Homo sapiens: one gene and its partner. The protein of the gene in region 2 purifies or fractionates together with the protein of the main gene of each other region. This does not show direct contact. Each region holds a gene or a part of one and is shown on either strand. Other genes may lie near its edges.

Evidence for each region. The genes of interacting proteins can lie anywhere in the genome.
Region 1: the proteins of MADD (region 2) and ECT2 purify together in Homo sapiens (affinity purification with mass spectrometry; one large-scale study listed by BioGRID and IntAct). This does not show direct contact.

What each region holds. Positions count from the first base shown.
Region 1 is NC_000003.12:172,760,636-172,764,287, reverse strand, and holds part of ECT2 (protein ECT2), read right to left. Parts: intron 2,679-3,652; coding exon 2,605-2,678; intron 1,873-2,604; coding exon 1,742-1,872; intron 1,598-1,741; coding exon 1,482-1,597; intron 1,379-1,481; coding exon 1,316-1,378; intron 11-1,315; coding exon 1-10. UniProt on the Homo sapiens protein: Guanine nucleotide exchange factor (GEF) that catalyzes the exchange of GDP for GTP. Promotes guanine nucleotide exchange on the Rho family members of small GTPases, like RHOA, RHOC, RAC1 and CDC42.
Region 2 is NC_000011.10:47,322,106-47,325,757, reverse strand, and holds part of MADD (MAP kinase-activating death domain protein), read right to left. Parts: intron 2,088-3,652; coding exon 1,923-2,087; intron 1,494-1,922; coding exon 1,421-1,493; intron 1,288-1,420; coding exon 1,181-1,287; intron 497-1,180; exon of another isoform or gene 425-496; intron 1-424. UniProt on the Homo sapiens protein: Guanyl-nucleotide exchange factor that regulates small GTPases of the Rab family. Converts GDP-bound inactive form of RAB27A and RAB27B to the GTP-bound active forms.

The sequences.
Region 1 (3,652 bases), on a different chromosome or scaffold from region 2:
GAGTATTTGCCTGTAATCAAAAGCACACAAGCTCAATTTACTTCCATGGTTCTTTACTGAGACAGGAACAAGAGAAAAATATATTTACAAGTCTGACAGAATCTGGATTTTGCACAATAATTTTATAACCCTACACTCTACCAGGCAATTCAAAAGTTTCATAAAACATAATAGTCAAGAGACGACTGTAATTGTCTAACCTCAAGCACCTCATTTTTCTTCATAGCCACTATCACTATTATATTTTCATCTGTAAACTTGTTTACTACCTGCTCCTTCATTAGCTCATCAACTCCAAGAAGGCAGGGGCCATTCACAGTCTGTTCGCTGTATCCCTAGCACAGTGCCTGGACACAATGCTTTCCAATATGTGCTGAGTAACACTTGATTTTTAAGAGTTCTCTCCCTAAATCTAAAGCACACTTTTTAAACTTTAAGAACTTCACATTTCAAAGACTCTGAAGAGAACACAATATGGTACTATATAGATTTTACAGAAACAACTCATCTTCAATATTCCACACAAAGTTATTAAATCCTAAACTGAAGTAAATCTTCCCTTAAAGACTACTTCCATAACTTTGTCATTTTGGTGAGTGATACTACTCTTCACCAAGATTCACCATAAACACTAGATTTTCCTTAACGATATTCTACTATCAAACTCATCTTTTTAATGACGTCTCTCCCCTTACTCTTCTTCAATGGCTCCCAATAGTTATAGGATAATATCCAAGCTCATTAATGTATTAAAAACTTCTTGATTCTATCTATCCATTAAGTTTTATCTGTTGGCCTTCCTTCCCACACTGTAAAGCCATACTAAACTACTTGTTATTTTAATGTACTCTCAAAGCTTTCATACCCTCTCCCAATTGGGGTTCTAACGAATGTCCTTACCTAGTTGGCCTAGTAAGTTGGGTCAACATTTATTTCACCTTTTTATTCCCTCCTGAGTCTCTCAGAGCGAGGCTACCTAAAATACATTACTCAGTTGTGGCACACATCATTCCCCATCGTTAACTACGTACAAATCTATCTTTCCATTAAAAGTCTAAGTTTCTGAAGATAGAGATGTTCTTGTTCGTAATGTTATCACCAAGAATTCGCACAGAACAACATATATTAGGTTAAAATAATACACATTACATTGAATAGTTCCACTTAAATCTACATAGACTAAGATAACTTGATATCCCAATTGTTTTAATCATTCTGAAATTCCTAAACATGCTTCTAAACCTTCTGGACAGAAAAGTGTTATTTTCAAACAATCAAGCTCACAGAACAAATAAGTAAGGGGTTAAAAGCATACCTTTTCATATAAATACATAGTTTCTCCAGCTCGGGCATCCATTTGAATGCTTCCCCAGAACCACTAGGTGAGAGAAAAAACATTTTAATAAACAGTTTACATTTATTTTATCAGAGAAGCTATTAATAGTGTTTTTAAAAACCAACCTCATTCTAGAATTACTTGCCTCTTGCTTGACAACATAAAGTTTCTTTGAAGGTTCAAAGGGAAGATCTTTTACTATATTCTCTTCAACTACAAGGTGAGTGCATCTTTCATCTCCAAGCGGTAAATATTTACCTCCTAAAAAGGAATGCACATAAGCATAAATAAGCCAAGCTACTTATTTCCAAACTCAAATTTTTTAAGAGGTATATTGACCAGGAAGTGATTAAGCAGGCCTAGGGACTAAAATAGATATAACTTTTACATTATGCTAAATTTTACCTTGCATTTCAGTCATTTCTTCCATATTGGTTTTCTCTTCATCTGAAAATCCCAGGAAACTTAAAATACAATCTTGAAATGGAGGAACTTTAAATTCATTTCTAAAGTCATCAACTGCTGCATAGAAATCCCTAAAAACAAAATACACTCTTCCAAAACCAGTTTAACTTAAATTCAAGTGTTAGGTATATCAATTTACAAACCTACAGTAATTTTCAAGGTCTTGGCATAATCTATCTATTGAAACTATTTAATATTTGGTCCTGAAATGCTCACAAAAACTTCAGTTTAAAAAAATGATGTGTCCTGTCATCCCAAAAGTAACTTCTGACAAAATGTGATCACAGATAAGCTTTACAAGAGATTCAAATTTTTTCTCTATTATTTGAAGATTTATATGTACTGTGTTCCAAGGCTTTCATGAAATCTAAAATAATGATAACTTTCATGAAATCTTAATTCATGAAGTGCCACAGCAAGAAATCATGCGCTTGGAAAACTAAGCAAAACAAGGCAATAAATTTCAAGCACCAATTAAAATGTAACCAGATAACACAAAATTTTAAAAATATGTAACAAAATCCAAATACACAGAATTATTTAGCTATTATCTAATAATTTCAGAATGTTTATAATAGCCAAAATTACTTCACAAGGTAAAATCCAAAGATATCAAAGATATCTTTCAATTTTTAATTTTTTATAATTTTTTATAACTTGTTCTCCCTAGATTTTATTCCTCAAGCTACTCAGACTGAATTCAGTTTTTATATCTATGAAATTACTTTTTTCAGCACATGGATTTATCTTTAAACCAGAATGTTTAATTTACATAATGAACTACTGAGTTTCTAAACACTTACTGTTCATTCCGCCTTTCCCAAGCTTTATAAATCCATTCTGGCTTCATAATTGGAGTACCTAGACTCACAGCAACCTAAAAATATAAACATTACAGTGAATTTTCTCCTTAAATAACTGCATTCAAGGAAGTTCTAAACAGTTAACATACTTAATTTTTTGCAGTTTTAGATCACTATCTGCTTTGTAACAAAATAATTTAAAAATTAACAGACAAACTATCTTCCAATCATACAAGTTAGGGTAAAATAACTTCAAAACAAGTTCCATGGTGTCCGAACTGTTTCCTTATTTTAAATAAATATATCTCTGAAGTTCATCTTTATTAAATTTCTATTTCTCCTTTCTTCACGTTTACTTCCTTGAAAGTATGACCCTCAAGATGGCACTACAGAAGAAGACATCCGACTAAGTCACTAAAACCTTAGATATGAGTTGAAATATTTAGGGTAAATTGAAGAGTACACTAAAATTACCATTTGCTACACAAATACACTAAGGGAGACTAAGAAAAAATGATAAACTCTTGCTAAGACATTCAACTATAATCTTAAACTAAGATTCAATCCTAGTGAGAGTATTTTCTCCTATTATAATATTCACAAGTTAAATCTTAGAACCACTTTATAAGAGCAGAGCTCTGTTCTTATGAAGGGCACTTAGACAGCCAGGCACAGTGGCTCATGCCTGTAATCCCACCACTTTGGGAGTCCGAGGCAGGCAGATCACCTGAGGTCGGGAGTTTGAGACCACCCTGGCCAATATGGTGAAACCCTGTCTCTATGAAAACTACAAAAATTAGCCGGGCATGGTGGTGCGCACCTGTAGTCCCAGCTACTCGGGAGGCTGAGGCAGGAGAATGGCGTGAACCCAGGAGGCGGAGCTTGCAGTGAGCCGAGATGGCACCACTGCACTCCAGCCTGGGTGACAGAGAGAGACTCAGTCTCAAAAAAAAAAAAAAAAAAAAAAAAAAGGCACTTAGACAAGAGTAAATTCCCTACTTTCACAATTCCTACAATGTTATTCATCTACCAACCCCCACGATCCTAG
Region 2 (3,652 bases):
TCTTCAGAGGCCACGGCGCTAAAATGTGGTCAGAAGTCTGCTCCCCAAGAAGTACTGACACCTTTGTGGTCCAGAAAAGCACTTAGGTAGACCCCTCTCTGGGATGGTCCTAAGGTCTTTGGGGTTGGCTACTGCCCTAAGTCCTAAATTGAAAATATACTAAGGGGCTGCTGGCAGCCTGCGCAGCCATTTCCTGTTAAACCAAAGCTGCCCAGCTACGTTCCTGAAAGAGAGCTACAACGGCTAGCGGAGGGAGGGAGACAGCCACGTCAGTCAGGCATCCACCTCCCCTGAGGGTCTGCGGCCTGGCCAGGGTCTGTGGGGCTTCACACATTTGGGTCTGGCTCAGAGCCTCAGGGAGAGGAACCCGGACATCAGGGAAAGAGGAGGGAAGGCACTTGTGTGAGGAGTCAGAGCTGTGAACGGACCTGGGATGATGCGCTGGCCTCAGAAAGGAATTAGCTTAAGGAATGTCCACTGAGAGAAAAAGGTAACACTGTGTTAAAAGACCAAGAGAGAAAAAAAAAAGTCAGCTCCTATGGTGGAATTACAATGAGGGAAAGATGTATCCACAAGTGCTCCCCAATCAAAAGAAAGGGAATGGGGCCTGTGGAGCAGGGGACAGAGTGGGAACACTCAGAGGAAGGAAAAGAACAGGAAGAAGAATCCGCAGAAGAAAAAGGCAAATAAACACACTCCAGAGAGGACAGATACAAGCTACTTACACACAAGCACGCAGGCACGCACGCACGCACACGCAAGCTGCACGCACACCAGAAAGACACAAGGAGATCGGCCAGTCTAGACTCTCAAAGCAAAACCACCAAGCAGAAGCATATCCTGGGAATAGAGGAAGGCAGAGACACTGCAGGGGAAGGGCCAAGTGAGACGCTCCCACTCACACTGTGTGGAGTCCAACGGATGGGGCAGCGTGGCCACCTGGCCTCGCTCCTGCCCAGCCTCCCCCACGGGCTCCCTGGTGCACCTTCACAGCGCCAGGTGGTCGCCAACGTCACTGTGCCCTCCCCTGGGGTTTCTTTCCTGGGTCCAGCTGCTCCAGTTCTCCCTCTAGCTCCAGAGGGCCCTCTCTCATGCTTGCTGGGGAAGTACTGGGGGCTTGGACATTGGTCCTTCTTACAGATGGAACGACAGGGAGCCTCGTGCTGCCGCTCGCACCTACCTGATTGTGCATGAATTTGAGGTTGATCCCTTCCAGGGTCACCTGCAGCAGGCCACCCTCACCAGTCTTCAGGTCCTGCACAGGGAACTCGCCACCCAATTCAGGTCCTGTGGTGAGGGAGGGGGCTATCAGCTCACTGGTGAGGTGGGGAATCCCACCCCTGACTTCCCTGCCAGGCCCCTGACACTCAGAAGGACTGGTAGAAACAGGGAAGACACTCTCAGGAAAAACTCTCCTCACCGGGTTTGATGCTTTGCTGTCGGGCGGCAGCGCGCTCCATGCTGTCCTTCACACAGTAGTACAGCTCCCGACACTGTGGCACAGGGGGAGAGTGGTCCCATCATGAGGGCTGTCCAGGGTTCCCCACCCACTGCTCTATAATGGCCACTGAAGGCTGGAGGTTGAAGTGAGGGGTAAAATTTTAAGTAGTCCTCCTATTTTTCGGATGTCTTATTCATTGTTGAGGTTATGAATGATAGATCCGGAGCATATGAATAGTATGGCTTTAAAGAAGGCATGGGTACAGATGTGTAGGAATGCTAGATATGGTTGGTTAATACCGATTGTGACTACTATTAGGCCTAGTTGGCTTGACAGAGACAGCTTTAGGTACTCCACCCAACAGCTGGAGACAGAAGTGTGGCTCCAGATGTGTGTTTTGGAATTTTAACTTCCCAAAGAGAAATTCACTATTTGGTCTTCAATGCCTACTAGCCCCAACCCAAACACAGATCCTGCGTACCTTTTTAGTATAGAACTTGTTGAGCTGGGTCTCAGAGCCATTTCTACGCCACAAGCACAACACCTTCGTCTTGGGACAGTAGGTCATGTTGATGAGCTTCTCGTACCACCAGCGCTCATACACTGTTCCGATGTTACTACGCAACACCACACAGTCATCGCACACCTGGAGAAGTGCACAAAGCGGCTCAGTGGTTCCTGTCTCTGACAGCCTCTCCCTAGACTGTTTCCTACAGGGAAAGGTGGTCCTGGGGCATCCCCATGGTCAGGTTTTCTGCCTTACGCTCATGGTTTCCCTAGGTGAAGACACAAAACAGAACTACTGACATGCTGCCTGCTACAAGGATTGTTGGAAGAGATGGAGTCATTAGAAGGAACCGATGTATAAGGGAGGAGGCACAAATCAATCAGTTATTTATTACCTCTTTTTTTTTTTTTTGAGACAGGGTCTCACTTTGTACCCCAGGCTTGACTGCAGTGGCGCCATCTCAGCTCACTGCAGCCTCGACCAGCCAGGTTCTTCCTGCCTCAGCCCCCAAAGTAGCAGGGACTACAGGTGCACACCATCACATTGGCTATAATTTTTTTTTTTTTTTTTTGAGATGGAGTCCCACTCTGTTGCCCAGGCTGGAGTGCAGTGGTGCAATCTCGACTCACTGCAACCTCTGCCTTGTGGGTTAAAATGATTCTCCTGCCTCAGCCTCCCGAGTAGCTGAGATTACAGGCACACATCACCATGCTCAGCTAATTTTTGTATTTTTAGTAGAGACAGGGTTTCACCATGTTGGCCAGGCTGGTCTCGAACTCCTGACCTCAAGTGATACACCCGTCTTGGCCTCCCAAAGTGCTGGGATTACAGGCGTGAGCCACCGCGCCCGGCCCAGTTATTTATTACCTCTTATGTGCTCTACGGACTTAAAGTATTTGGAGGAGATCTCATGCCTCCATCTTACAAGCTCAGGAATCATCTTTGTTGACAAACACAAAGGTAGGAGATCATGACAGACTTAACCAAGGAGAAAAATGGAGCTGATGCACTTTCTAATCCTGGGTCTACCCTTTTTCTATAAAAATATTTTTAAAAATTAATTACACAAGTGACACATGAACAATGCTTATTACATAAAAATGATACAATACAGGATGATATAAATTAAAAAGCAAATATCTTTGACACCTTCTTGTTCAACATTCTCTTTCAGGTGAAGTTATCTGTTCTTCTTTTTGAGACGGATCTCGCTCTGTCGCCCAGGCTGGAGTGCAGTGGCGCAATCCCGTCTCACTGCAAGCTCCGCCTCCCAGGTTCACGCCATTCTCCTGCCTCAGCCTCTCGAGTAGCTGGGACTACAGGCACCCACCACCATGCCCGGCTAATTTTTTATATATTTTTTTAAGTAGAGACGGGGTTTCACCGTGTTAGCAAGGATAGTCTTGATCTCCTGACTTCATGATCCGCCCGCCTCGGCCTCCCAAAGTGCTGGGATTACAGACGTGAGCCACCATGCGCAGCCAGTTATCCGTTCTTAAGGCTTCAAATGTTACGGGAGACATTACAGCACAATGGTGAAGGGCACAGGTCTAAAGTCAGCCTGAGTTTAGATTCCAGCTCTGCCATTACTGAGCTGTGCCACCCTGAGCAAGTTCATCTGTGTCCACAATTCCTCACAGGTAAGATGGGGATAGTAACAGTAATAACTTCCTACAGTTACTATGAAGACTAAATGAGTTAAT